6 linked regions of the Homo sapiens genome follow. The protein of the gene in region 6 interacts with the protein of the main gene of each other region in a pairwise test. Each region holds a gene or a part of one and is shown on either strand. Other genes may lie near its edges. The genes, in order: RNF19A, DNAJC11, ALG8, RAI1, ROBO2 and RPS6KA5.

Region 1 (4,952 bases), on a different chromosome or scaffold from region 6:
ACCCTTTAATATAAAACCAACTTTTGTCAGGCATGGTGACTCATGCTTGTAATTCCAGCACTTTGGGAGGCCAAGGTGGGCAAATCACCTGAGGTTAGGAGTTCGAGACCAGCCTGGCCAACATGGTGAAACCCTGTCTCTACTAAAAATACAAAAAAAAATTTACCTAGGTATGGTGGTGGGCACCTGCAGTTCCAGCTACTTGGGAGGCTGAGGCAGGAGAATTGCTCCAACCTGAGAGGTGGAGGTTATAGTGAGCCGAGATTGCGACATTGCACTCCAGGCAGGGTGACAAGCAAATCTGTGTCTCAAAAATAAAAATAAATAAATAAATAAAAACTTTTTTTTGGAGACAGAGTTTCACTCTGTCACCCAGGCTGGAGTGCAGTGACGCAATCTTGGCTTACTGCACCCTCCGCCTCCCAGGCTGAAACGATTCTCATTCCTCAGCCTGCCAGTAGCTGGGATTACAGGCACCTGCCACCACACCCAGCTAATCATTTTTTTTTTTTTTTTTTTTTTTTACAAGCGGCGAGGTTTTGCCATGTTGGCCAGGCTGATTTCGAACTCCTGGACTCAAGTGATCCGCCCACGTCAGCCTTCCAAAGTGCTGGGATTACAGGCGTGAGCCACTGCACCTGGCCCATTTTTAAAATTATGCACAAACGTTAAATATCCTTTAGATTTTTGCATAATTTAGCATACCTTACTGATGTCCTTAGCAAAAATTTCCAGAACCATATTTTAGTGTGTTGCATGGTAACCCCACAAAAGATATGTTCATGTCCTAATCCCCAGAATCTGCAAATGTTATTTGGAAAAAGGGGTTTTGCAGATGTAATTAAGTTAAGAATCTTGAGATAAGATCATCCTGGATTATCCAGGTAGCCTCAAAATCAAGTGACAAGTGTCTTTGTAAGGGACAAGTAGACCCATTACAGAGAAGACGACGCGCAGAAAAGGAGGAAGCAGTGTGCTCATGGAGGCGGAGATTGGAGTGATGTAACCGCAAGCCGAGGAATGCTTATAGTCACCAGAAGCTGGAAGAGTCAAAGGACACATTCTCCCCTCAAGCCCCAGTGGGAGCACGGCCCAGCTGGATTTTGGACTTCTGGCCTCCAGAACTGTAAGAGAAATGTCCATTGTCTTAAGCCAACCAGTTTGTGGTAGTTTGTTACAGCAGCCCCAGGAAACTACTATGCAGTCAAAAGTCTTCAGTAAACCAAAAATCTCTAATTATCGTTGTTTTATATCATGTGCTATGATGATCAGAGACTAAACAGCTCTTTCGTTAGAATTCTAATTCTGAGAAATATCAGAGGAAGTGTTTTAATACCCTCCAGTCTCAACAGGAATCGATTATATCTTATAAGATACATTTTGTTATTTTGCTTGTATCGTTTCTTTCTTCTCCTAACTTGCTCCTTCTTTGCTCTTTGTATACTTTTTAAGATGTAGTTGACATGGGGGAGGGGAATGAGTAAAACACTAGTAGGATAGACCAACAGGTTTTGTCTTCTTTAAAGTGTAATTCCTCCATGATCCCCCTTCCACCTTTTCTGTCTCCTTTACTGGATTCGCCTCTTCTCCCCTACATCTTAATGTTGGGATGCTACAGACCTCATTCCCTACTCTTTAATATTTACTTTTTGGTGATTTCATCTGTGTTCACGATTTTACATACCATCCAAATAACAGCAACTCCAAAATTTACATCTCTAGGCTTTACTTTTTTCCTAATCTCTGGGCTTGTCAAACGGGTGTTTGGATATACATCTCCACCTAGGTATAAGAGATATCTCAAGTATAAATGTCTAAAAATGAACTTCTGGTCTTGGCTCACTCTTAAAACTTGTGTTTCATAGCCTTCCCCATTTCAGTTGATAGCAGTTTCAGCCTTCTGATTAATCAGGCCAAATCCTCTTGTAATCCATCAGGAAATCCTTACAGTTTTACCTTCAAAACATGTCCTCAACACCTTCACTGATGTGCCATCGTCATCTTTCTCATAGATTACTTCAGTAGTCTTTAAACTGTTCTCTGTGCTACCATCCTTAATACCTCCCCATCTGTTCACAACACTTGAATGATCCTTTTAAACTTAGATTTTAAACTATCTCTGTCACTTTAGAAACCCAAGTTTCCCTGTCTCACTTAGAATAAAAGCCAAAGTACTTACAGTGGCCTTAACCCCACACAACCTGGCATTCTCATGTATCTCAGATAGTCTTTGCCTTGCTCATTAATTTTCAGCCATATTAGGGCCTCCTGGCTATTCCTTGAGCATACCAGACACATTCCTCCCTTAGGGGCTTTGCAGTGGCTGTTCTGTGCCTTGGATGCTCTTTCCCCAGATTTCCACATAGCTAACACCTCCTTTACCTCCTTCAGGTCTCTGCTAAATGCCACCCTTTCAATGAGACTGTGATCACCCTGTTTAAAATAGTAATCAACACCACACATACACTGATCTCCTTTGCTCTGCCTAACTTTTTTCCCCACCTTCTAGTAAAGAATAATATTAAAATATTTAGACGATATTTAGAAAATTGTAAACTTGTATATAAGAGCATGGAGTAACTTTTAGTAATGCTTATTTATAGTTACTGACCTAGAATGATTGTGGAGATAAGATAGGAGTTGGGCCTTGAAAGAGGAGTAGGACTAGCAGTGAAGATGGAAAAGAATACTCCAGGCAGAGACAAAGGCGTAGGAAAATTCATAGAGTTGAAACTATATATGTTTTGTTAAGATATTTAACAAATAGGTCAGTTGGCTAAAGTGTGGGGTTTTTATGTAGAACAGTGAGAAACTGAGGTTGCACTGTGGAGGGCTTTTAATGCCACAGGAAACTTGAAATTTATTCTTCATCTCGGGGAAACCAGTGGAAATTTGTAAGCAGACTTTAACAAAGAGGATAATGTGGTAATTTGGATACCAGGTGATTAATGAAGGCCTAGTCTAGGCAGTAAGATAGTAGAAAGAATGCTGAGCCTTTAGCTCTGCCACGTTAGCTGTGTGGGTAAGTCACATCTCTAGACCAGTGCTGTGCAATAGAACTTTCTGTGGTGAAGGAAATGTTCTAGACCTGTTCAGTCCAATATGGTAGCCAATAGCAACCTATGGTTGTAGAGCATTTGAAATGTGACTAGCACAACTGAGGAACTAAAATTTAATTTTAATTTAAATAGCCTCATGGGACTAGTGGTGATACATCGAACCTACTAGCTCTAAATTCAGTTTTCTCACTTACAAAAATAGGTTAGATTAGAATGCTAGAGTCACTAGAAGGATAGGTTTCACAGCCACATAAAGTTGGTGCAGCCTCTTGAGAAGAGCAAGTAAGTACATGAGCACAGGGACCTTTACATGACTAGTTTTTTTGTCTGTGTGAAATAGGTCCAGAATTTGTAGCCTTTTCACTCTTTGTATCTTCTTGACTTACTTAAAAGACTCACTCTGTTTTTTGATGGCTGCTTTTTCAAATTAGTCTTTGGATTACTGTCTCCCAGGAGTTGACTAGTTAAATATCTGATACATCTAATTTAATAGTCTGTTTTAGAATTGTAGTTAAACTGATTATGTTGCTTTTGTTTTTTTATTTTTTAATTTTTTTCTATTTCATTTTTTTCAGAGACAGGGCCTCACTGTGTCACCCAGGGTGGAATACAGTGGTGTGATCATAGCTCACTGCAGCCTGGAATTCCTGGGCTCAAGCAACCCTGCCACCTCAGCCTTCCAAGTAGCTAGGACTACAGGTGTGCACCACCACACCCAGCTAATTTGTGTAGTTTTTGTAGAGATGGGTTTCACCTTGATGCCCAGGCTGCTCTTGAACTCCTAATTTCGAGTAATCTGCCTGCCTTGTCCTCCCAAAGCGCTGGGATTGCAAGCATGAGCCACCATACCATGCCCAGCTGATTTTGTTGCTTTTGAATTCTCAGTAAGAAAACCGTAACAGAGATAAACCTTTATGATTGTTTACCTGCTGTGTAATTATTACCTAGATTTTTCTGTCTTTAGAAAATACTCCCTTTTCTTTCCTTATACAGTTAATAATATTTCCTTTGTACGTGAGTTTTTAATCTCATTTTCGGGAGACTTGTGTAAAGAGAAGCTAATTTGAATACTACATACCCAAAGGGAAACAGACACATTTTGCTTATTGTGCCTCTTGGTTCCCAAGAGATATTATTCCATCTGAGAATTACCTTATAGTTTGAAGAAAATTTTAAAACTAAGTTCTAGGATCTCTACCAAACACCTCTTACAGATTGCACTCTTATCTCCTATGTACATATATCATTCAATTACATGCACACACAATGATTTAGCTAACCAGAGGTCTTCCCTCCCCCTTACTCATGGTGTCCTTTAGGAGAAAGAGACAAATGAGCTTCCAAAATTGGAGAGGTGGGATGCTACTGTTATCAATAATTTGTATGGAGTTGAGGGATTTCCAGAGAAAGTGGTTAGGATAAGATTAGTCCAAACACTTAATACTTTTTTTTTTCTTTTTTTTATTTTGAGACAGAGTTTTGCTCTTGTCACCCGGGCTGGAGTGCAATGGCACAATCTTGGCTTACTCAACCTCCACCTCCTGGGTTCAAGCAATTCTTCTGCCTCAGCTTCCCGAGTAGCTGGGATTAAAGGCATGTGCCACCACACCCAGCTAATTTTGTATTTCTAGTAGAGACAGTGTTTCACCATGTTGGCCAGGCTGGTCTTGAACTACTGACCTCAGGTGATCTGCCCACCTTGGTCTCCCAAAGCGCCGGGATTACAGGCGTGAGCCACCGCACCCGGTCCAAACACTTAATACTTCTAATTGTCCAAATAGTAGAATCACATTAATCATGAGACTTGGTAAAATTCACTTTGACACTGAATTTACTAAGAAGAGTATACTAATACTTGGGAGAATTTGGAGACATTTTGTAAAGAACAGAAAC
Region 2 (4,952 bases), on a different chromosome or scaffold from region 6:
CACAATTAGTAACAACAGAATCCCAAAGACTGAAAAAAAAAAAAAAAAGCAGGAAGCACATCACCTGTAAGGTTTACGGGGCAGAGAAGGAATCAGGTCTTGCAGCACACATCTCGGCTACAATCACAGAATTCAAGAACAAATGGGCCCAAGGTGCAAAAATCCTGACTCCCAATCAGAGGTCATTGCAAGGGCTCAGGAAATCTTCTGCTACCATTGTACAACTTGGTTTTCATTACTCTTCCTGGTCATGTTCATATATATATTTGTTGCCCTTGAGACTAATAGAAAATCAAAAGGCCCCAGTCTCTAGAAACAAGCTCCAGAGTTGCACCAAAATTGATGGCTCAGATCCTATCTTCACAGTAAGAAATCGGCTTATTTCTCCCTAAAAGCCTGACCTTATACCTTCTGTCATTCGTGTTCATCCGTTATACCCTGCCTACTCATGCAGACTTCTTGTGGTTGATCTCTATTGGCTTGGCATTTTACTGCTGAAGAATTTTCTGGCTCCTGTCAACTAGGGAGGGTAGGCTGCACACTCAAAACATGCAGAAGTGGTTCCAACAGTCCATGAGCCAAACAGGAATCCAGCTGTCAGATTTTCATCTCGAAGGAGGTTCCACTCCAAGCTGCAAGCTCCTTCCAGGGACTGCAATCTGTACCAGGCATATGCTGTAACAGTGGTAATAATGCAGCAATGTTCTCAATTGTCTTCTTTTTAAGAAATGTGTGACTCCTTTAAAAAATATATGCTATTTTATTTTTTCATCTGTTGTCTTACATCCTTTCTTAAACAAAGGTGTAAGTAAGTAAAATTAAAATGAAAGGTTAATAAAAAGCAGACAATAAAATTCTACAGCCAAGCAAAGCATGTTGCTCTCATGTCCCGTTTTCCATTGTTTTATTACTAAATTCACAGCAAATACAAAAGTTTTCCATTGAATTCTCTTTAAGAAAGAAAATAAAAGAGGTGTTTTGGTAGATAATGCAAAATTAGAGCATTAACATTTCAAGAAGCAATTGTTTGAAATGCCCAAAGCAGAAAATAACTGGCTTATAGATCATTAAAGAAACACATTGTGAAATGTAACCTCACGTTTGCCAATCACATTATGAGATGACATTGGAAGTGGTGGGGCATCCTCAACAGCCCCCTCCCTGCACACAGGCAGCTTCTCTAAACTCCACTTCCCGGGCACCCTCTTGGGCCCACCCCTGCCCCCAGCTCTGCCTCCTCTCTGCTTGGCTCACAACTATCCTATCTTTACCCCAAACACCCAAAAAATGTTATCCTTGAGCCTGCACCCTACTCCCATACTTAGCCCCAACTTCCAGGAAAGCTCCCTATCCCCATGTCAACTTTCCAGGAAGCACAAGTTCAGAGAGATCACTGTCTTTTAAAAAGAACAAACTCAGTGTTTTGAACAGAAAGTAAAAAATGCTTCAGGAATTTTTTTTTTTTTTTTTTGAGATGGAGTTTTGCTCTTGTTGCCCAAGATGGAGTGCAATGGCACGATCTTGGCTCACTGCAGCCTCTGCCTCCCGGGTTCAAGTGAATCTCCTGCCTCAGCCTCCCATGTAGCTGAGATTACAGGCATTTGCCACCACGCCTGGCTAATTTTTGTATTTTTAGTAGAGATGGGGTTTCTCCATGTTGGTCACGCTGGTCTCAAACTCCCGACTTCAGGTGATCTGCCCGCCTCAGCCTCCCAAAGTGCTGGGATTACAGGCATGAGCCACTGCGCCCAGCCTCTTTTTTTTTCTTTGACAGAGTCTTGCTCTGTTGCCCAGGCTGGAGTCCAGTGGCACAATCTTGGCTCACTGCAACCTCCGCCTCCTGGGTTTGAGCAATTCTCCTGTCTCAACCTCCCAAGTAGCTGGGATTACAGGCGAGCATCACCACACCCGGCTAATTTTTTTTTTTCGTATTTTTAGTACAGACAGGGTTTCGCCATGTTAATAAGGCTGGTCTCAAACTCCTGACCTCAGGTGATCTGCCCGCCTCCGCCTCCCAAAGCGTTGGGACTGTAAGGCGTGAGCCACCACACCCAACCTCAGGAATTTCATAAACTAATGCTTAGCATACATTCTAGCACTATGATTTTTAGTAATATTACAAGTGGATAGCAAAGTTCATCCTTAGCCAGGATGAAGCATACCAAGTATGTCTTTCACATTTTTAAATTTATTTATGTACATGTATGTCTTTCACATTTTTATTTATTGTTATATTATCGTTTAGATGGATTCTTGCTCTGTCGCTCAGGCTGGAGTGCAGTGGTGGTGCGATCTTGCTTCACTGCAAACTCCATCTCCCGGGTTCAACCAATTCTCTTGCCTCAGCCTCCCGAGTAGCTGGGATTACAGACGCCCACCACCACACCCAGCTAGTTTTTGTATTTTTAGTAGAGACAGGGTTTCACCATGTTGGCCAGGCTGATCTCGAACTCCTGACCTCGTGATTCACCCGCCTCAGCCTCCCAAAGTGCTGGGATTACAGGCATGAGCCACCACGCCCAGCCTTTTATTTATTATTATTTTTATAGACGGAGTCTCGCTTTTTATAGACAAAGTCTCGCTCTGTCGCCCAGCCTAGAGTGTGGTGGTGTGACTGCAGCTCACTGCAGCCCCAAACTTCTAGGTTCAAGCAATCCTCCTGTAACCAAGTACCCCCATTTTTTTTTTTTTTTTTTTTTTGGAGACAGAGTCTCGCTCTGTTGCCCAGGCTGGAGCACAGTGGTGCGATCTCTGCTCACGGCAACCTCCACCTCCCAGCAGAGATTCTCCTGCTTCAGCCTTATGAGTAGCTGGGATTACAGGCGCCCGCCATCAAGTCTGGCTAAGTTTTGTATTTTTAGTAGAGATGGGGTTTCACCATGCTGGCCAGGTGGGTCTTGAACTCCTGACCTCAAGTGATCCGCTGGCCTCAGCCTCCCAAAGTGCTGGGATTCACAGGCATGAGCTACCATGCCCAGCCCCATTTTTTCTAAGAGATAGTTTAATTATTTTCTCCTCTCCCCCTTTCCCCGGTACCCTGCTTCCTACTTAGCCCTTTAGAAATGCAAATATAACCTTTCCCCTCCCCCTCACCAGACATCTTCTATGGGGCAAGTTCAGCTAACTACGTGCTCCAAGACGGATCTCTTGACAGTGGATTTGCAGACCAAATCATGTCCCCATGGCCACTTTTACTTCTTTCTGCCCAGGAAGATGCCAACTCAATTGCCAGTTAGATAAAGTACCCAGATAGCAGGGGGACCCCTGCCCTTGCTCATTTCCTCCTATACCTTATAAAAGTGCCTGCTTTCTGCTCTAAAAGTGAAGCGGTACAGCAGGACATCGTGCCCCTTCCCCAAGCTGACTTCAGAGTAAATTCACTGGCTTTGTATGCGCCTCACTCTTGTTAACTGGACTCTGCATGCGGTAAACAACTGACCTGCTTTTCGGCTGCACCTCCACCTTAGGCTGGACTACAGGTTACAGCTCATGCCACCATGCCCAGCTAATTAAAAAAAATTTTTTTTGGCTGGGCGCGGTGGCTCACACCTATAATCGCAGCACTTTGGGAGGCTGAGGCGGGCGGATCACAAGGTCAGGAGATCGAGACCATCCTGGCTAACACGGTGAAACCCCGTCTCTACTAAAAATACAAAAAAAAAAAAAAAATTATCCAGGCATGGTGGTGGGGGCCTGTAGCCCCAGCTACTCAGGAGGCTGAGGCAGGAGAATGGCGTGAACCCGGGAGGCGGAGCTTGCAATAAGCCGAGATCGCACCACTGCACTCCAGCCTGGGCAACAAAGCGAGACTCCGAATCAAAAAAAAAAAAAAAAAAAAAATCAGCTGGGCGTGGTGGCAGGTGCCTGTAGTCCCGGCTACTCGGGAGGCTGAGGCAGGAGAATGGCGTGAACCCAGATGGCAGAGCTTGCAATGAGCCGAGATTGTGCCACTGCGCTCCAGCCTGGGTGACAGAGCGAGACTCTCTCAAAAAAAAAAAAAAAAAAATTTTTTTTTTTAATTAAAGATGGAGTCTTGCTACGTTATGCCAACCCAGGCTGGTCTCAAACTCCTGGACTTAAGTTATCCTCCTGCCTTAGCCTCCTAAGGTGCTGGAATTACAGGTGTGAGCCACCCCCCAATCCTTATGTCTTTTTTTAAAGTAAGCAAAACTTCAAACTTATCAAAATCCAAGAAATAACAATATATATTAACTAAATACCTACTTATGACAGGCAATTTATATACATTCTCAGCACCTAGCAACGCACATACCACACAGGTCATCCTGGCCTACAGTAAGTGCTTAAGCCATTATTACCTGTTACCTACATTCTAACATTAAAGAAACTGATGGCCAGGTGCAGTGGCTCATGCCTGTAATCCCAGCACTTTGGGAGGCCGAGGCGGATGGATCACGACGTCAGGAGTTTGAGACCAGTCTGGCCAACATAGTGAAACCCTATCTCTACTAAAAAAAAAAAAAAAAAAAAAAAAAAAAAAATTAGCCGGGTGTACTGGTGTGTGCCTGTAATCCCAGCTACTTGGGAGGCTGAGGCAGGAGAATTGCATGAACCTAGGAGGTGGAGGTTGCAGTGAGCTGAGATTGCGCCATTGCACTCCAGCCAGGGTGACAGTGTGAGACTCCATCTCAAAAAAAAAAAAAGAAATTGAGAAACAGAAAGGTTAAATTACTAGCGTTGAAGCATAGAACTTCCAGAAGAGTAAAATGGGATTTGAATACTGGACTCCAGCTGCAAAGCCCTACATAGTGGCCTCCCTCTATCCCATTGTTAACTAAGAAGTACTGGTGCCTCCATTCTGCAGGTAAGTAGAGGCTGAGGTTAAATGACTCGTTGAAGGTCACACAAGAGGCAGGCAGCATGGGCTGAAATTCTTGCTTCTCAGCCTCTTGGCTTACAGAACACCCTATGGAATGCAGACATCTGAATAA
Region 3 (4,952 bases), on a different chromosome or scaffold from region 6:
ACTGCACTCCAGCCTGGGCGACAGAGCAAGACTCCGTCTCAAAAAAAAAAAAAAAATGTGCAAAGTAAAACTATTTGCAACAGGTAAAAAGTGGAGATAAATGTCCACAAACAGCAGAATAGCTAAATAAATTGTGGTGTTTTCACACAATGGAATACTGTAGAGCAGCAGTTCTCAAAGTGTGATTCAGGGACTCACAGGGAGACCCTTTCAAGGAGTTTGAAATATGTACTATTTTCATAATAATATTCAGATGTAATTTGTTCTACTTTCACTCATTCTCTCACAAGTATACAGTGATGTTCTAGAGGCTACATAATGTGATGTCATCACTCTGAAGGCCAGTGAAATTTGTGCTTGTATATTCTTGTGCTTGAACAATTTGTTTTAATTTCTAAAATGGTAATTATCTATTATACAGCCCACATAAACATATAGCTCTTTGTGACCCTCAATTATTTTTAAGAAGTGATTCTGACTAAAAAGTTTGAGAACCATGCTATCTAGTGATAAGAATGAAAAAACAGTAATTACACAACAACGCACAAACTTAATGTTGAGTGAAAGCCAGACCCAAGAGAATAGATTGTATGATTACATTTGTATAAAATTCAAAAACAAACAAAAAAAACCCAAACAAAAATTCAAAAACAGGCAAAATTTAACCTATGCGGTTAAAAGAACATCAGAGGCCAGGCATGATGGCTCACGCCTGTAATCCCAACACTTCGGGAGGCCAAGGCGGGTGGATCACTTGAGCTCAGGAGTTCAAGACCAGCCTGGGTAACAATGAGACCCCATCTCTCAAAAAATTTAAAAATTAGCCAGGCATGGCGGCACGCCCCTGTAGTCCCAGCTACTCAAGAGGTTGAGGTGGGAGGACTGCCTGAGCCCAAGAGGCTGAGGCTACAGTGAGCCAAGTTTGCACCACTGCACTCCAGCATGGGAGACAGAGCAAGACCCGGTCTCAAAAAAAAAAAAAAAAAAAGGTGAGAATATCAATACCTTTAGTGGGGTGGGGTTGTGGGGAGTGGCTGGAAAGATGCCCGAGGGATAATATTCTGCTTATTGATCTATATGCTTTTTACAGATGTATTCACTTTGCAAAAATTCAGTGAGCTGTACATTTATGATTTGCACTTCTGGTATTTTATACTGGATTTTGTATGGAATTCTAGGTTGAAATTTACTTCCACTGAACTTTGGAAGCTTATTCCATTGGTTTTTAGTATAAAATGTTGATGTTGGTAAGTCTCTTTACTTTATGGTTTTCCCTTCATCTCTGGAAGTTTCCTGTTTCTCCTTTTTATCCATAGCAGTCTGAAATGTCTAGTGATTAATGTCTTCATGAGGGTCTTTTTTCATTAATTATGCTGAGTATGTAGTGCCTTCAGCTCTGGGAAATTTATTATTTGTTAATCTCCTCCCCTGTGTTTTTTTTCTGAAATTTTTTTAGATGGATGCTAGACACCCTAGATTGAACTTATAATTTTTATCTTTTCTCTTATATTTTTGAAAGATTTACTCAATTTGTCCTTAATTTTGGCAATAACATTTTCTATTAACCACTGTTTCTCTGATAATTCCTGTTTCATAGCATCTGTTCTTGTTTTATAGACATGTCTTTTTTACTCTCTTTGGAGACAGCATTTACAAAATCTGAGTGAGTTTGGGGACACTTTCTTTTCCTATATAGTTGTACTATATAGACTTTTTCCAGTCTCTTTTTTGGGTGCTTTATTTTGTTGTTTCCTATTCAAAACTGTTGGAGACTTCACTTTTGTTGGAGTGCTGGGATTACAGGCGTGAGCCACTGCACCCATCAGTAAAAGTAATCTTAATTGCTGAAATGACACTTGAAAAAAAAAGCAAAACTAAGACTAGAGACATAATGATAAATAGTAACTACTTTTTTAAATTGCATTAACAAAATCTACAATCAGCCGAGCACAATGGTTCATGCCTATAATCCCAGTACTTTGGGAGGCCATGGTGGGAGGATAGCTTGAGGTTGGAAGTTCAAGACCAGCCTGGGCAACATAATGAGACTCCCATCTCTACAAAAAACTTAAAAATTAGCTGGTGTGGTGGTGTGCACCTGTAGTCCCAGCTACTCAGGAGGCTGAGGCCAGAGGACGGCTTGAGCCCAGGAATTTGAGGCTGCAGTGAGCTATGACTGTGCCACTGTAATCTAGCCTGAGCAACAGAGTTAGACTCTGTCTCTAAAATTTTTGACCACCATCTCCAGCTAATTCTTTGTATTTTTTGTAGAGACGGGGTTTCATTATGTTGCCCAGGCTGGTCCCAAACTCCCAAGCTCAAGCAATCTGCCTGCCTTGGCCTTCCAAAGTGCTGGGATTACAGGTGTGAGCCACTGCACCCAGCCCTGTCTCTAAAAATTAAAACAAACAAAAACCTACCATCTCTTACTTGTCCTATGATAGCTTCTTAAATTGAACTCCCCATCTTCACTCAGGCCCTTCATTAATCTAGCTTTCACATTGCAGCCAAAGTAGTATTTCTAAATCACGAATGTTATATTTCCCTTTTAACTGGCCTCTGCCCTCTGGATAAAATCTAAAGTACTCAACATAGTCTAAAAGATATTTTTGGATCTCGCTTACTCACCTTTTCAGCCCATTTCTCACCATCCTCCCACCTGTCTTTGTCTTACTCTACATTCACCTTTTCCCTCTGCCTGCAACACTCTGTGTGAGGTAGGTTCTTTAACTCTTACCATTTCACCAGTGGCGTAGAGAAGCAGCTTGCCCTGTCATGTAGCCAGTATGCAGCAGAGCCAGATTCTAACCAGGGCAGTCTGACTCCCTAGCTACGGCTCTTAAACCACCAAATACTTCCAAAGTTAGTTGTTATTTTCTCTGCAAATCCTTCCTGACCTCAAGGCAAAATAAATCTTTAATTTGTCCATTTCTATCTCTAATGCCACCACTCCAATTCAAGTCAGCATCTTCTCTCATGTAGACTTTCTCAAAGGGCACCTAGCCTTCCTGACTCTCCTTCTGCCTCCTCCAATCATTTATATGGGAGCCAAAAAATATTTTATAAATGCAGATCATTTCCACTGAGCTTATAAAATCAAAATCTAAATTTTTCATCCTGGCTTTATAAGCTCCGGCATGATTTGGTGCCTATCTTTCCAATTTCACTGTGCATGTTTCTGTCTCTGTTGCTTATTCCATGCCAGCTACACTGGCCTTATCATAGCTGCCCAAATAGGTCAATACTTTCACACCACAGGGCCTATATTTATACAGTGTGCTCTTTCAGATAAGTTCTACACACTTGCACACACCACATACTCTGCATGGATGGCCCTCTCATTCACACTTTAGGCCTCCAATGATGTCAGTTCCTCAGAGACATTCTCTGACACCTAACTGAAAGTACATCTTCCTTCTTGGTCGCCTGATAGGATCCTGTTCTTCTTCTTCCATTTTTTTTTTTTTTTTTTTTTTAGATGGAGTCTCACTCTGTCGACCAGGTTGGAGTGCAGTGGCGCTATCTCGGCTCACTGCAAGCTCCGCCTTCCGGGTTCATGCCATTCTCCTGCCTCAGCCTCCCCAGTAGCTGGGACTACACGCGCCCACCACCACACCCGGCTAATTTTTGTATTTTCAGTAGAGACGGGGTTTCATCGTGTTAACCAGGATGGTCTCGATCTCCTGACCTCGTGATCCGCCCGCCTCGGCCTCCCAAAGTGCTGGGATTACAGGCGTGAGCCACCACACCCAGCCTCTTCTTCCTAATACTTAATCCAAATTGTAGTTATGTAACTATATATTTGCATTGATTTGTTTCTTGTACTGTTATACTTACTGAACTACACACTTCACAGGGCTAGGGATCATATCTATTTTTTCCTCCCTTCTAGCCTAGCAACAGTACCTGGTACATAATAAAGCAATTAGTAAATGTTTTGTTGAATATATCTGCATTTATCCTGTAACTTCCCTCTCATATCCCAGGGGTTTCTGGTTTGAGAAACAGAGCATTAACTACAATTAAAAACATTCGTTTTTAAATATATGAAGTGTTTCATAAATTTGCATGCTATCCTTGTGCGTGGACCATGCTAAGCTTCCTGTATCATTCGATTTTAGTGCAGGCATACCTTAGAGATATTGTGGGTTTAGACCACCATAATGAAGTGAATATCGCAATAAAGTGAGTCACATGAATTTTTTGATTTCCCAGAGCATGTAAAAGTTATGTTTACACTGGCCGGCCGCGGTGGCTCACGCCTGTAATCCCAGCACTTTGGAGGCCGAGGCGGGCGGATCACGAGGTCAGGAGATCGAGACCACCCTGGCTAACATGGTGAAACCCCATCTCTACTAAAAATACAAAAAAAATTAGCCGGGCTTGGTGAGGGGCGCCTGTAGGGTCAGCTACTCGGTAGGCTGAGGCAGAAGAATGGTGTGAACCCGGAAGGTGAGCTTGCAGTGAGCCGAGATAGCGCCACTGCCCTCCAGCCTGGGCGACAGAGCGAGACTCCGTCTCAAAAAAAAAAAAAAGTTATGTTTACACTATACTATAAAACGTGCAATACTACTATGTCTAAAAAGACAGCGTACACCTTCATTTTAAAATACTTTATCGCTAAAACAAAGCTAATGATCATCTGCACCTTCGGCAAGTCCTAATCTTTTTGCTGGTGGAGGATTTTGCTTCAATGTTGATGGCTGTTGATTGATCAGGTTTATGGGTGCTGAAGATTGGGGTGACTTGTGGCAAACTGGTTTTTTTTTTTTTTTGAGATGGAGTCTCACTCTTGTCACCCAGGCTGGAGTGCAATGGTGTGATCTTGGCTCACTACAACCTTCGCCTCCTGGGTTCAAGTGATTCTCCTGCCTCAGCCTCCTAAGTGGCTGGGATCACAGGTGCCCACCACCACACTTGGCTAATTTTTGTATATTTAGTAGAGACGGGGT
Region 4 (4,952 bases), on a different chromosome or scaffold from region 6:
GCATGCGTGTGTGTGTGTGTGCGCGCGTGTGTGTGTGAGCATACATATGCTTGTGTGCACGCATGTGCGTGGGGACAGGGGCAGACCCTCCTCAGTCCCCAGCATGGCTGGGTCATGCTTGAACACGGTCGCGAAGGGACTAAATTACAGGATCCAGCAGGCCCCAGGGGATGAGGGAGCGGGAATTGCTCTGCTAAATGCTTTTGAGCTGTCAGGAAGGGCTGGGAGTGATGGGTGGGGGACATTGGGGAGGAGCTGGCAATGGGCGGGGGGGGGGCGGGTAGCTCCCCAGTGACCTGGCGCTGGGCAGCCGGTTTTGCCTCCCGCATCAGTGGCCGTCCTTGGCAAGACTCAGCTGCAGGCGATGTGGGAGCGGGAATTACAGAGCACACCTCCCTGACACAGAAGTTGTCAATATGCGCACAGCTGGTGGGGAGGCTCAGGCGAAGGGGGGACTATTAAGAGCTGCGCGGGGGAGCAGGCAGGGTGGGGAGGTGGGTGGGAGGGTGCTTTCTGAGGCAAAAGGAAGTGGCCCGTCTGAATCGCTCATCCTCTGCCCCCTCCCTGCCCATCCTCCCCTCCCTCCTTCCCTCCCTCCCTCCCTTCCTTTTTCTTTTCACAGATAACCAGCCCGAGTCATGCAGTCTTTTCGAGAAAGGTGTGGTTTCCATGGCAAACAACAGAACTACCAGCAGACCTCGCAGGAAACATCACGCCTAGAGAATTACAGGCAGCCGAGTCAGGCCGGGCTAAGCTGCGACCGGCAGCGGCTGCTCGCCAAGGACTATTATAACCCGCAGCCTTACCCGAGCTATGAGGGTGGCGCTGGCACGCCCTCTGGCACTGCAGCCGCGGTGGCCGCCGACAAGTACCACCGAGGCAGCAAGGCCCTGCCCACACAGCAAGGCCTGCAGGGGAGGCCGGCTTTCCCTGGCTACGGCGTCCAGGACAGCAGCCCCTACCCAGGCCGCTATGCTGGTGAGGAGAGCCTTCAGGCTTGGGGGGCCCCACAGCCACCACCCCCACAGCCGCAGCCACTACCTGCAGGGGTGGCCAAGTATGATGAGAACTTGATGAAAAAGACAGCAGTGCCCCCCAGCAGGCAGTATGCAGAGCAGGGCGCCCAGGTGCCCTTTCGGACTCACTCCCTGCACGTCCAGCAGCCACCGCCGCCCCAGCAGCCCCTGGCATACCCCAAGCTCCAAAGGCAGAAGCTGCAGAACGACATTGCCTCCCCTCTGCCCTTCCCCCAGGGTACCCACTTTCCTCAGCATTCCCAGTCCTTCCCCACCTCCTCCACCTACTCCTCCTCTGTCCAGGGTGGTGGGCAGGGGGCCCACTCCTATAAGAGTTGCACAGCACCGACTGCCCAGCCCCATGACAGGCCGCTGACTGCCAGCTCCAGCCTGGCCCCGGGGCAGCGGGTCCAGAATCTTCATGCCTACCAGTCGGGCCGCCTCAGCTATGACCAGCAGCAGCAGCAGCAGCAGCAGCAGCAGCAGCAGCAGCAAGCCCTTCAGAGCCGGCACCATGCCCAGGAAACCCTCCATTACCAAAACCTCGCCAAGTATCAGCACTACGGGCAGCAAGGCCAGGGCTACTGCCAGCCGGACGCAGCCGTCCGGACCCCAGAGCAGTACTACCAGACCTTCAGCCCCAGCTCCAGCCACTCACCCGCCCGCTCCGTGGGCCGCTCACCTTCCTACAGTTCCACACCGTCGCCGCTGATGCCAAACCTGGAGAACTTTCCCTACAGCCAGCAGCCGCTCAGCACCGGGGCCTTCCCCGCAGGGATCACTGACCACAGCCACTTCATGCCCCTGCTCAATCCCTCCCCAACGGATGCCACCAGCTCTGTGGACACCCAGGCTGGCAACTGCAAGCCCCTTCAGAAGGACAAGCTCCCTGAGAACCTGCTGTCGGATCTCAGCCTGCAGAGCCTCACGGCGCTGACCTCACAGGTGGAGAACATCTCCAACACCGTCCAGCAGCTGCTGCTCTCCAAGGCTGCTGTGCCGCAGAAGAAAGGTGTCAAGAACCTCGTGTCCAGGACCCCAGAGCAGCATAAAAGCCAGCACTGCAGCCCCGAAGGGAGCGGCTACTCAGCCGAGCCCGCAGGCACACCGCTGTCAGAGCCGCCGAGCAGCACGCCACAGTCCACGCATGCGGAGCCGCAGGAGGCCGACTACCTGAGCGGCTCCGAGGACCCACTGGAGCGCAGCTTCCTCTACTGCAACCAGGCCCGTGGCAGCCCTGCCAGGGTCAACAGCAACTCGAAGGCCAAGCCCGAGTCCGTGTCCACCTGTTCTGTGACCTCTCCTGACGACATGTCCACCAAATCTGACGACTCCTTCCAGAGCCTACACGGCAGTCTGCCGCTCGACAGCTTCTCCAAGTTCGTGGCGGGTGAGCGGGACTGTCCGCGGCTGCTGCTCAGCGCCCTGGCACAGGAGGACCTGGCCTCCGAGATCCTGGGGCTGCAGGAAGCCATCGGTGAGAAGGCCGACAAAGCTTGGGCTGAAGCACCCAGCCTGGTCAAGGACAGCAGCAAGCCACCCTTCTCGCTGGAGAACCACAGCGCCTGCCTGGACTCTGTGGCCAAGAGTGCGTGGCCCCGGCCTGGGGAGCCGGAGGCCCTGCCCGACTCCTTGCAGCTGGACAAGGGCGGCAATGCCAAGGACTTCAGCCCAGGGCTGTTTGAAGACCCTTCCGTGGCCTTCGCTACGCCTGACCCCAAAAAGACAACTGGTCCTCTCTCCTTTGGTACCAAGCCCACCCTTGGGGTTCCTGCTCCAGACCCCACTACAGCAGCTTTTGACTGTTTCCCGGACACAACCGCTGCCAGCTCAGCGGACAGCGCCAACCCCTTTGCCTGGCCAGAGGAAAACCTGGGGGATGCTTGTCCCAGGTGGGGATTGCACCCTGGCGAGCTTACCAAGGGCCTGGAGCAGGGTGGGAAGGCCTCAGATGGCATCAGCAAAGGGGACACCCATGAGGCTTCGGCCTGCCTGGGCTTCCAGGAGGAGGACCCCCCTGGGGAGAAGGTGGCCTCGTTGCCCGGGGACTTCAAGCAGGAGGAGGTGGGTGGGGTGAAGGAGGAGGCAGGTGGGCTGCTGCAGTGCCCCGAGGTGGCCAAGGCTGACCGGTGGCTGGAGGACAGCCGGCACTGCTGTTCCACCGCCGACTTCGGGGACCTCCCACTGCTGCCACCCACCAGCAGGAAGGAGGACCTGGAAGCTGAGGAGGAGTACTCCTCCCTATGTGAGCTCCTGGGCAGCCCCGAGCAGAGGCCTGGCATGCAGGACCCGCTGTCACCCAAGGCCCCACTCATCTGCACCAAGGAGGAGGTGGAGGAGGTGCTGGACTCCAAGGCCGGCTGGGGCTCTCCGTGCCACCTCTCAGGGGAGTCCGTCATCCTGCTGGGCCCTACAGTGGGCACCGAGTCAAAGGTCCAGAGCTGGTTTGAGTCCTCTCTGTCACACATGAAGCCAGGTGAAGAGGGGCCTGATGGGGAGCGAGCTCCAGGGGATTCCACCACCTCGGACGCCTCTCTGGCCCAGAAGCCCAACAAGCCTGCTGTGCCCGAGGCGCCCATCGCAAAGAAAGAGCCTGTGCCACGGGGCAAAAGCTTACGGAGCCGTCGGGTGCACCGGGGGCTGCCCGAGGCCGAGGACTCCCCATGCAGGGCACCAGTGCTGCCCAAAGACCTCTTGCTCCCTGAATCCTGCACAGGGCCCCCCCAGGGACAGATGGAAGGGGCTGGAGCCCCAGGCCGGGGGGCCTCGGAAGGGCTCCCCAGGATGTGTACTCGTTCTCTCACGGCCCTGAGTGAGCCCCGCACGCCCGGACCCCCAGGCCTGACCACCACCCCTGCACCCCCAGACAAACTGGGGGGCAAGCAGCGAGCCGCCTTCAAGTCGGGCAAGCGGGTGGGGAAGCCCTCACCCAAGGCTGCCTCCAGCCCCAGCAACCCGGCCGCCCTGCCTGTGGCCTCCGACAGCAGCCCGATGGGCTCCAAGACCAAGGAGACAGACTCACCCAGCACGCCTGGCAAGGACCAGCGCTCCATGATCCTTCGGTCACGCACCAAAACCCAGGAGATCTTCCACTCCAAGCGGCGGAGGCCCTCTGAGGGCCGGCTCCCCAACTGCCGTGCCACCAAGAAGCTCCTCGACAACAGCCACTTGCCCGCCACATTCAAGGTCTCCAGCAGCCCCCAGAAGGAGGGCAGGGTGAGCCAGCGGGCAAGGGTCCCCAAACCTGGTGCAGGCAGCAAGCTCTCTGACCGGCCCCTCCATGCGCTCAAAAGGAAGTCGGCCTTCATGGCGCCGGTCCCCACCAAGAAGCGGAACCTGGTCTTGCGGAGCCGCAGCAGCAGCAGCAGCAACGCCAGTGGCAATGGGGGAGATGGGAAGGAGGAGAGGCCTGAGGGTTCCCCCACCCTCTTCAAGAGGATGTCTTCTCCCAAGAAAGCCAAGCCCACCAAGGGCAATGGCGAGCCTGCCACAAAGCTCCCACCCCCGGAGACCCCCGATGCCTGCCTCAAGCTCGCCTCTCGGGCAGCCTTCCAGGGGGCCATGAAGACCAAGGTGCTGCCACCCCGGAAGGGCCGGGGCCTGAAGCTGGAAGCCATCGTGCAGAAGATCACCTCGCCCAGCCTCAAGAAGTTCGCATGTAAAGCGCCAGGGGCCTCTCCTGGTAATCCTCTGAGCCCATCCCTTTCCGACAAAGACCGTGGGCTCAAGGGTGCTGGGGGCAGCCCAGTGGGGGTGGAAGAAGGCCTGGTAAATGTGGGCACCGGGCAGAAGCTCCCAACTTCTGGGGCTGATCCGTTATGCAGAAATCCAACCAACAGATCCTTAAAAGGCAAACTCATGAACAGTAAGAAACTGTCTTCTACTGACTGTTTCAAAACCGAGGCCTTCACATCCCCGGAGGCCCTGCAGCCTGGG
Region 5 (4,952 bases), on a different chromosome or scaffold from region 6:
GGAAAGTGTAATAAGAATTCCCAGCCTGGAAAGGGTTCTTAAAATACAAGTTGTCTGTTGGATTGTGAGTAGAGGGCAGGCATCAAACACCTCAGTTTATTCATAATAGTCTTATTGCCATGTGTACAGGGAGGTGGGAGGCAAGGGGGTAAGAGCTATATTTGCCCAAAATCTGTACCCACATGTTGTACATATTTTCTGATTCTTTTTTCTTTCACTTTAGTATTAAAAGTTGACATTATTCAGGCTTTCAAATCAGAAAGGTGGGACTGAAACACTTAAAAACATACTTAGCTATGAAATGTATTTACATGTTTCATGATAGCCAGTGAGGAATAACCCAGTTAAATCTGGTTTTGGGCAGAAAAGGAGGCCTTAAACCTCAACTGAATGACAACTTGATTTGTGAGTTCAGGGCTCATATGCCCATTTGATGAATTTTTTTTTTTTTTTTTGAGACAGGGTCTCCCTCTGTCACCCTGGCTGGAATGCAGTGGTGTACTCACAGCTCACTGCAGCCTTGACCTCGCAGACACAAGCAATCCTTCTACCTCAGCCTCCCAAGTAGCTGGGACTACAGGTGAGCACCACCATGCCCAGCTAATTTTTTTTTTTTTCTTTTTTTTTGCAAAGATAGGGTTTCACCATGTTGCCCAGGCTGATCTCAAACTCATGGGCTCAAGAGATCCTCCCAGTCTCCCAAAGTACTGAGATTACAGGCATGAGCCACGCTGTGTGGCCTGAAACATCTTTTCATTATTATTGTTTAACTCTTGAAATTATGCGAAAACAATTACAATGCAAAAAAAAAAAAATGTTTTGAGACCACCACATTAAATGTTGTAACTCTTCTTAGTCAATTTTGCATGGGGAAAAAAAACCAAAAAACAACAAAAAAAAAAAACACACAAAAGCAAAGACTGAGAATGTTGTACCTAGCATTTTCTTTTCTTTTTTTAAATGAAAGTAAGTTTATTAGAGTAGTAAAGAAACAGAAATGGCATTTTCTTTTTAAAAGGTTACATTTCTCCTACTCAGTTTCTACGCTAACCCATGATAGAGATGGGGTAAGAAGCACTAAAACAATTGGCGTTTGAGTAATAGCTTGTTGTTGCTGGCATTCAAAGGTACTTAGAATACACAAACGGTTATATACTTAAGATGAGGAAGGTGAAATGCTTAAGATGAGGAAGGTGAAATGCTGTCTCTGATTTAATGGAACAATAATAAGCTTGGTTTTCAATAACTGTACTGTTATCTGGCAACGTATTAAAATTTACTTTATAATAGAGATATAAAATACAAGAGTGCCTGTTGCTAGATTCATTCTAAATTTCCCCTAATTTACTCTAACCCTGAAATCTATATTTTATAATAATCGGATATATCTAAATAAGTTTAATCATATTCTAGCATTTGCTAGTATTTGGAAATATACGTATTATAAAACTTCTAAGTACGACTCTAACCTTGATTTATAAAAACTTATAAACTTTCCTTTATAATGAATAACTCTTAACTCAAGTTTTTTGGAAAGTCAAAATTCTCCCTTTTTGAATCACACTTATGAACATTTTAATTGGTTATAAGTGCTGCAGAGGTTTGGTCCAAATCCCTTAAATTCCAGTCTGGTTTCAACTGGGTGTTCCTTGCTTAAACTTGAAAAGCCTTTCAGTGGGATAGTTGAGTTATATTCCATGTTCTCCAGCTCATTTCCAAAAAGCTTGGAACCAAAGTCTAGGGAAAGAGATCCCACATCAATCCTTACAACAGAAATTAAAAAGTGGCTGTTAACCCCCTCTCCTGAGCTAAAATTTCCATGTTGCATATGGTTCTAGTTATAGTGGCCAGAAACTAAGCACATTGACCTAAGACTATTGTCTCCTTAGTATTAAATTTTTAAAATTCCATTTATTGATAAGGAAAGCCTAAGTACCACTGGTCATTAATGAATGAGAGTGGATGTGAATCATAAGACTAGTTAATTTTGGCTGTCATGCATATCCATAGCCATATCATTGAACCCACACCAAAACACAGATATGCTACATGCATATTAGACAATAGACTGTTATTGTTTTTAAAGATGGATGTTTATGGTTTTGGATAATTCTTTTCAAGCCTAAATTTGTGTGAGTGTGTGTGTGGAGACGGGGCCTCTGTCACCCAGGCAAAAGTGCAGTGGTGTAATCATGGCTCGCTGCAGCCTCAACCTCCTGGGCTCAAGGAATCCTCTCATCTCAGCCTCCCAAGTATCTGAGACCACAAGTGGACACCACCATGCCCAGCTAACTTTTTTTCTTTTTTGTAGAGACAGGGTTTCACTATGTTGCCCAGGCTGGTCTCAAACACCTAGGCTCAAGCGATCCTTCAGCTTCAGCCTCCCAAATTGTTAGGATTGCAGGGGTGAGCCACTGCGCCGAGCCCAGGCTAAATTTTCTTCTTTAAAAATTCTCAGATATAACAATAAATGTTGGAACATTAAACAGAAGTACTTGGGATAATAAAACCTAAGGTTCATGGAGACCTTGGAAATTACACAGTCAAATGAAACCATTTTTGGTAAGGTTCTAAGGCAATTAGAACAATTAACAATCCACTAGGGAAGCTAACAGTGCAGTCCAGAGATCTGGTCACCAAAGGTATGTCACTTCCACAATAGTAATGATATTGTTTTATTCAGGCTATCCTTTCTGATATGCATAACTACTCATTGTGCAAATGTAACTAATGGATAATTATAAAAAGTTATTAGATTCAATGTCTTATACTAAATGAAGGGAAGCTAAGGGGGCTATCTAGAAAACGAATTAGTGAGTGGATACCAAATGTTAATTTTTACTTAGGTCTTCGGTTCTCAAAGTGTTTATTTAGTTTGTCTTACACAAGATTTATCTCCACAGTACGTTATATCAAAGCACCAGGTAAAAATTATCCAGGATGAAATGTAAATCAGCCAACATGAACCAAAATGCAGGCTTACACAAGCATGGTCTACTTGCTAACAAATTGCCATTTGTGTGATTCCTCTCTTGTTTACTATCTTCATTCGTCGCACCTTTCACTTGGGAATCACATGTGTTTTGTAATCAGCTTATGATGCAATGGAAACACACATGTCATAGCACAACTGTCACAGCTGTGTAGGCGAGGCCACCGATAAGTTCCCTTAAGAGGCAACAAAAATTCTTAATCAGTCACCTGAAGACTCACAGCTGAAAAATCTTATTAAAATTGTCCTAACATGCACCCCAATTGTAGTCCATAATTAGTCTGATAGCAAAGTCCTCTTCTAGTTATTTTCCTTGTTCATACTAGGCAGGGAATAATAATCTAATAAAAATACTACTAATTATAACAATAAGTTATGCTTGAGTGGCATTTATAAAGTACACTGTTCATGGCATCATATATATCTTTTTTTTTGAGACGGAGTCTCACTCTGTCGCCGAGGCTGGAGTGCAGTGGCGCGATCTCGGCTCACTGCCAGTTCCACCTCCCAGGTTCAAGCCATTCTCCTGCCTCAGCCTCCCAAGTAGCTGGGACTACAGGCGCCCGCCACCACACCCGGCTAATTATTTTTTTGTATTTTTAGTAGAGACAGGGTTTCGCCGTATTAGCCAGGATAGTCTCGACCTCCTGACCTCGTGATCCACCTGCCTCAGCCTCCCAAAGTGCTGGGATTACAGGCGTGAGCCACCGCGCCCAGCCCATATATATCTTTATATACATCTTTATTTTATATATATATTTATTTATTTATATATATCATTATATATATTTTTTTGAGACGGAGTTTTGCCCGTTGCCTAGGCTGGAGTATAATGGCACAATTTTGGCACTGCAACCTCCACCTCCTGGGTTCAAATGATTCTCCTGCCTCAGCCTCCTGAGTAGCTGGGATTACAGGCACCTGCCACCATGCTCAGCCAATTTTTGTATTTTTTTTAAATAGAGAGGGGGTTTCACCATGTTGGCCAGGCTGGTCTTGAACTCCTGACCTCAGGTGATCCACACACCTCACCCTCCCAAAGTGCTGGGATTACAGGCGTGAGCCACCATGCCCTGCCTATATATCGTTATATTTTTAAAACTATTTTATTTCTCATTATAACTGTATGAGATATACATTATTACCATGCCCATTTTACAGGTAAGGACACTGAGGCATAAAAAGGTTAAATTACTTGTTCATACTCATTCAGTAGTGATTGCTCAGTAGTCTTTCAATAACCATCTTATCCTTCTTCCTTACAGGCAAACTATGTTGCAATCAATCTAGACTTCTTGCCATTTCCTTAGCACCCCTTTGTCATCTTCATGCCATTTTTCTGGTTACTTCTTTTCCTGGAATTCAATTTCCAATCTTTTTGCCCACCAAAATCCCACTCTTCCTCTAAGGTCCAGGTTAAGAGACCCATTTGGTGTTGACCCTTCCCAGATTGTACCAGCTGGAAATCACCTATTCCTTCTCTGAGTTCTCAAGACTATACTGTGTACACCTTCAAACTTCTTACTTATCAGACACTACTTTTTTTATTCTAGTGACTTGAACATTTGGTACCTTCCCTACCAAGTCATGACTTCCTTGAATGTGGGAATATTTTCACAGGTCAGCATGTTCTTCACAGAGCCAAGCAAGTTATGTTGTCAATATGCATGTGTTGAATCAAAGGAATAACCTAAACATATTCAAGCTCATTTTCTCATGGACTCTTCAGAAAATAGCTGGTCATTTTCAGTAACAAGAGCCTGGAATTCTTGTTAAGGAGTTCCAGGGCTAAGAATCCAGAAACAGTCTCTCATAGGCAGAAGCCTGGTACAGAGATGAAGCATCCCTGGAGTCTAGTTTCTGCTCTACCACTAAGTAGCAATGGGATCTGTGACAAGGCACATAAAATCTCTAAGCTTCAGTTCTCCATGTGCCCAACCAATAAGAGAGTTGTGCAATA
Region 6 (4,952 bases):
CTCAAGAAATAAGTATATGCCACACATAAAATTCATTACAGAATCTTTTTTGAAAACAGACCCCTTTCTCTGATAAATCATTGTTTGAAGGGTGCAAATTTCAAAAACCCACATTGTCCACAAGGCAAAGCAAAAGGTATCATCACAGTATGAGTCATTTCTTGTTGGCAGACATCTGGAAAACCTGTGACTTACAAGCAGCTCAAATCTAGCCCTAATTAAATTTACAGGAACCTTTGCTCTTTCAAGAATAGTCTTGTTGGCATCATGCTAGGTTGCTAAAAAGAGTAATATGTGCTCTATTCACAGTAACATTCTCTGTCCAGTGCTTTTGAATGAGGATAACCAAACAGGTTTTCCTGAAAAAAATCATTAGGAGGCAGATTCCAATGAGACCAACGGGAAACATTTTTAAAAGCATAAAAGATCGCCTCAGGCATATGCTGAGGGAATAAAGGTGCAATGGATCACTGATACACTCCTACCATGCCTAAGCTACTGAGTCCGAGAACTGGAAGAGGGTCTCCGGGTTATTGCTGTCGGCAGGATTGCTGGGCTGCAGTGTCTTGGTGGGTGTAGTTTTACCGTGAGAATGAGAGGAAGAAGAATGGGAACTCTCACTGGAACTGCTGCGCGTCTCGGTACTGGTGCTAGTCTTTTTCATTTTTCTTCTCTTAGCCAAAGGGGCCTTATCAACATTCTGAAGGCAAAACCCCTCTCTCTTGTATTTGTTAAAGGCCTGGCGGGGGAAAAAAAGGGAACCCCTGTGAAGGTAAAAGTACTGAAGCTTTCCTAGCAGTTATGACTTACAGCAGAAGACAACTTTCCATTGGCAACTGCAGCCCCAAGTTGTTTTAAGGGAACAAAGCTCTTAAAACCTTTATATCTAAGTCTATTGGCAGGGTGGAGAAGTTCATGGGAAAAAAATTCTGAGGGCTCTGTTTATATCAAACTAGCTAGGCGGTCTGAGAGTCACAATTCTAATAAATCTTTTGAAGAAGTTAGTACTACATCCTAATACGAAACAATTGACTGGAAATTCCTGAAGACCATCAGTAATCTAAACTATCCCCATTGCTTTTACTGGTTCTGTGTCTAAGATTTAAAATTCTGAACACAAAGTCCCAATGCAAGCAGACTTGACGCATTCTGAGTCTTTGCTCTTCAGTCCCATTCAATGTCATTTGGATATATACTGGACACTTACACGCATGGAGAAGCACAGCTCTACAGCTTTGCCCTGGCTTCCTCCTCCTGCAGCCTGTCTTCACTCTCCTTAGCCTAGGCTTGGATAATGCTGCAGTTACACCTTGTAGTTGTCACCTTGCAACCTATGTCACTGAGAAGATTTGGATCATCTGATAGAAATTCTTGCAGTTAATCTCTTTACCATCTCAACATTTCCTAGTTTATTACTTTTTAAATCCATTTCTGCTGCTGAAGAAGCACTATCCCTATACCTTCTCCTTTCTCAAAATAATCCCTTTGAAGGTGACTTTCTGTTTCCCTAACTCATCTTATACTATACTTCACATGAATTATCTTAATATATTTGCATCTGCTTGGCACAAATGTGCATAATCCACAGTTTCTACCAAATAGTCTCAGTCTTTCAAACATACAATCTATACTTAATACCAATGAACTTACTTCATATCCCTCCCAGTTTTAAGAATGTGTGATGTACTAAATGGTTGTAAAATGAATGGACTTTCAAATATGCCTTAGTTCCTAATGTTTATTATGGTTTTTAAAGAAATTTAGTCAGTCTATTTGAGAGGAAAAAGTTCTATTATCTCATCTCATAAGGTCATTCTAAAAATTAAATATGTATTTTGTGGGTTAGCAGTGACTCTGGTCCCCTGTGCACTTATTGTTATAAAGTGTTTATAACCATGAAGCAATTTATAAAAACATACCTAAAAGTAAAAGGACACATATTATTTTAAATGTGAAACAAAGAAAACGTATCTGAGGCTACAGAGTAAGAACATTTGATTATGATTCCTACTCAAACCGCCCAACATGTACAGAGCACAGGGCCTTACGTGGAAGGTTGCTTTCACACAGGTATGCACGGCAGCTCCGGAAGATCCTAGAATATCCGGAGTCATCAGAGGATTGGAGGACAGCTGACTTCCATCTTGTAGCCATTCATTGTACCTCAAGCCAGACATTTTAAGCCTTTTGTTTGGATCTACTGTGAGAAGTCCTTTGGGAATAGATATTTTTATTTTATGATTTGTCATTTTAAACATGGTTTAAAAACAAACTCAGAAATAAATCTCAGCTATGTTCACATGACATAATGGTTTCTATATAGCTTTAACCTCCTACAAAGATAATTAGATTTTCCTATTCATTTAAATTCTTTTGTGAATGCTGGAGTCTAATGATAAAGTCACAGTAGCCTATTTCTAGGAAGCTCCAGGCGAAGTGGCTTTTCAATCAGGAGAAAATAAACATCCAAAACAAAGATTCCCACTGGTGACTTCGTAAGCTCCAAATGAGCAAAAAGCACACAGATCTACTTCATCCATATACCAAACATTTACTGGCCATCTTCTATAGGTCAGGGAGTGCAGTAAGGCACTAGAGATATGGAGATGGAGATGCAGAGAGGAGCTATTAATATCAGAAGACACACAGGCAAAACCCCAGCTATTATAACATCAGGGATAAGTGCGATAGCAAGATACACAGGCACAGTGTGTTAGCAGGCCTGAGGGAGAGTGTAGCCTAGGGAGTGAGGGCATCCTGGAAGGCTTCTAGGAGATGAATCCTGTAGGATAAGGAGAAGTGGCTATGGAAGAGGATTAAGAGCATGTAAAGACACGGAGGGATCTGAAAGCTCAGCATATCTGAGGAATTCAAATATCCTGCAACGGCAGAGCTGGGGTGAGGAGGAAACAAAGGCAGACAGGACCAGGTCATGAGGGGCTTTGAATGTTAAATGCTAGGCTAAGGAGTCTGACCTGAAGCAAACAGAGAGTCTCCAAAGGATTTTTGGCAGAAAAGAGGCATAATCACATAGGGATTCTAGAAAAGTCCCTCTATTGACAGATGATGAACAGCTTAAGTCAGAGGAAGTGAGGCAAGGTGAAAGGATGCTGCAGGATTTGGGGAGAGAAATGGTGATGAGAACAAAGGCAACGGCAGGTGAATGGGAAGGAAGGGACCGGACTGCTAGGAGCGCTGCTGAATGTGTAGAACTCTGTGACTGGCTGCAGAAGGCAGGCAGGTGCAGGTATCCAGGAGGACGCCTAGGTTTCTGTTTTGGTGATCTGGCTTCTTAGCAGTGCCACTGTTGACAGGAGGAAAGACAGGAGGAGGAGCGTGTTTGGGGGGAAGGACAGTCAAAAAGTATTGGTTTGTTTTAGATGTGCTTGACTGAGATGCCAGTGGAAGTCAAGTGCTAGCTCATGTTAGAAATGTGGATACCATTACTAAAGAGAATGTTCTGATAAGAAAACAAGGCTGAAGAGAGTAGCCTGGAAGCCTTTTAGAATACACATGGATTCCTCGAGTAATTAACATATGAATGTATGTGTAATGGCCATGATTCTACTTCAATCACTACACATCATATAAAATGTAAAATTTCATTAGATTCTTACCTTGGATCAAATCTTTAGCCTCTTGGGATACATTCTTCCAGGCTTCTCCTTCAAAGGAGAAATCTCCCTTTTTAATTTTCTTCATGATTTCCACCGCGCTGGTACACGTCAAACTTCGGTCATGAGATTGGAAGGGAACCTGTCCTGACAACATTGTGTACTATCAGGGAAAAAGTAACAAAACAGAATGACTACCCAGATCTGTTAAAGCCACTCTAATAATCCTAATAGTAACGTAACTGGTGTAATTTACCAATTGCTACAACTAGCATGATTGAGTTTAAAAGATTACGTGATTCCTCAGGGATCTAGAACTAGAAATACCATTTGACCCAGCCATCCCATCACTGGGTATATACCCAAAGGATTATAAATCATGCTGCTATAAAGACACATGCACACGTATGTTTATTGCGGCACTATTCACAATAGCAAAGACTTGGAACCAACCCAAATGTCCAACAACGATAGACTGGATTAAGAAAATGTGGCATATATACACCATGGAATACTATGCAGCCATAAAAAATGATGAGTTCATGTCCTTTGTAGGGACATGGATGAAGCTGGAAACCATCATTCTCAGCAAACTATCGCAAGGACAAAAAACCAAACACCACATGTTCTCACTCATAGGTGGGAATTGAACAATGAGAACACATGGACACAGGAAGGGGAACATCACACACCGGGGACTGTTGTGGGGTGGGGGGAGGGGGGAGGGATAGCATTAGGAGATAAACCTAATGCTAAATGATGAGTTAATGGGTGCAGCACACCAACATGGCACATGTATACATATGTAAAAAACCTGCACGTTGTGCACATGTACCCTAAAACTTAAAGTATTAAAAAAAAAAAGATTACGTGACTTCTATCACTGAGGCAGTGAATACATCTCAAAGACTTGTAAACCAGTGGCATGGCTTGTTATGATATAGATTTAAAATCACATTTATGACTATATTCAGAGCAATAAGAACAGAAAAGGATAATCCAACTGCTTCAAAAAGATGGTATTGATGTTAACAGAAAATAGAGAGATAGCAGAACTCCTGAATAACTATGTTTTTCTATTCCATTTCCACCATCCTTTCCCCAGGACATGTAACTATGGTTAAGGACTTGAAAAACTTCATATAGGCCTTCCTATTTGATCTGTAATTACCCCTGTTTTTATTTTATTTTTCTCACTGTTGTCTTAAATACAGTGAATTATCTACAGCCACCTGTTTTCATTGTAGCCATATGTTTGAAATCTATGTTTAAGATTTTCCCCTTTATAAAGTTAACAGAATAACAAACAAGCCAAGGCTTATCTTTGTAGCAGAGATT

The links.
Region 1: the proteins of RPS6KA5 (region 6) and RNF19A interact in a two-hybrid assay, tested with the Homo sapiens proteins (one large-scale study listed by BioGRID and IntAct).
Region 2: the proteins of RPS6KA5 (region 6) and DNAJC11 interact in a two-hybrid assay, tested with the Homo sapiens proteins (one large-scale study listed by BioGRID and IntAct).
Region 3: the proteins of RPS6KA5 (region 6) and ALG8 interact in a two-hybrid assay, tested with the Homo sapiens proteins (one large-scale study listed by BioGRID and IntAct).
Region 4: the proteins of RPS6KA5 (region 6) and RAI1 interact in a two-hybrid assay, tested with the Homo sapiens proteins (one large-scale study listed by BioGRID and IntAct).
Region 5: the proteins of RPS6KA5 (region 6) and ROBO2 interact in a two-hybrid assay, tested with the Homo sapiens proteins (one large-scale study listed by BioGRID and IntAct).

The regions. Positions count from the first base shown.
Region 1 is NC_000008.11:100,299,334-100,304,285, reverse strand, and holds part of RNF19A (E3 ubiquitin-protein ligase RNF19A), read left to right. Parts: intron 1-884; exon of another isoform or gene 885-1,126; intron 1,127-2,092; exon of another isoform or gene 2,093-3,758; intron 3,759-4,952. UniProt on the Homo sapiens protein: E3 ubiquitin-protein ligase which accepts ubiquitin from E2 ubiquitin-conjugating enzymes UBE2L3 and UBE2L6 in the form of a thioester and then directly transfers the ubiquitin to targeted substrates, such as SNCAIP or CASR.
Region 2 is NC_000001.11:6,691,157-6,696,108, forward strand, and holds part of DNAJC11 (dnaJ homolog subfamily C member 11), read right to left. Parts: intron 1-4,952.
Region 3 is NC_000011.10:78,129,380-78,134,331, forward strand, and holds part of ALG8 (dolichyl pyrophosphate Glc1Man9GlcNAc2 alpha-1,3-glucosyltransferase), read right to left. Parts: intron 1-4,952.
Region 4 is NC_000017.11:17,792,311-17,797,262, forward strand, and holds part of RAI1 (retinoic acid-induced protein 1), read left to right. Parts: intron 1-622; 5' UTR 623-638; coding exon 639-4,952. UniProt on the Homo sapiens protein: Transcriptional regulator of the circadian clock components: CLOCK, BMAL1, BMAL2, PER1/3, CRY1/2, NR1D1/2 and RORA/C. Positively regulates the transcriptional activity of CLOCK a core component of the circadian clock.
Region 5 is NC_000003.12:77,046,521-77,051,472, reverse strand, and holds part of ROBO2 (roundabout homolog 2 isoform 23 precursor), read right to left. Parts: intron 1-4,952. UniProt on the Homo sapiens protein: Receptor for SLIT2, and probably SLIT1, which are thought to act as molecular guidance cue in cellular migration, including axonal navigation at the ventral midline of the neural tube and projection of axons to different regions during neuronal development.
Region 6 is NC_000014.9:90,871,584-90,876,535, forward strand, and holds part of RPS6KA5 (ribosomal protein S6 kinase alpha-5), read right to left. Parts: intron 3,778-4,952; coding exon 3,618-3,777; intron 2,213-3,617; coding exon 2,049-2,212; intron 740-2,048; coding exon 491-739; 3' UTR 1-490. UniProt on the Homo sapiens protein: Serine/threonine-protein kinase that is required for the mitogen or stress-induced phosphorylation of the transcription factors CREB1 and ATF1 and for the regulation of the transcription factors RELA, STAT3 and ETV1/ER81, and that contributes to gene activation by histone phosphorylation and functions in the regulation of inflammatory genes.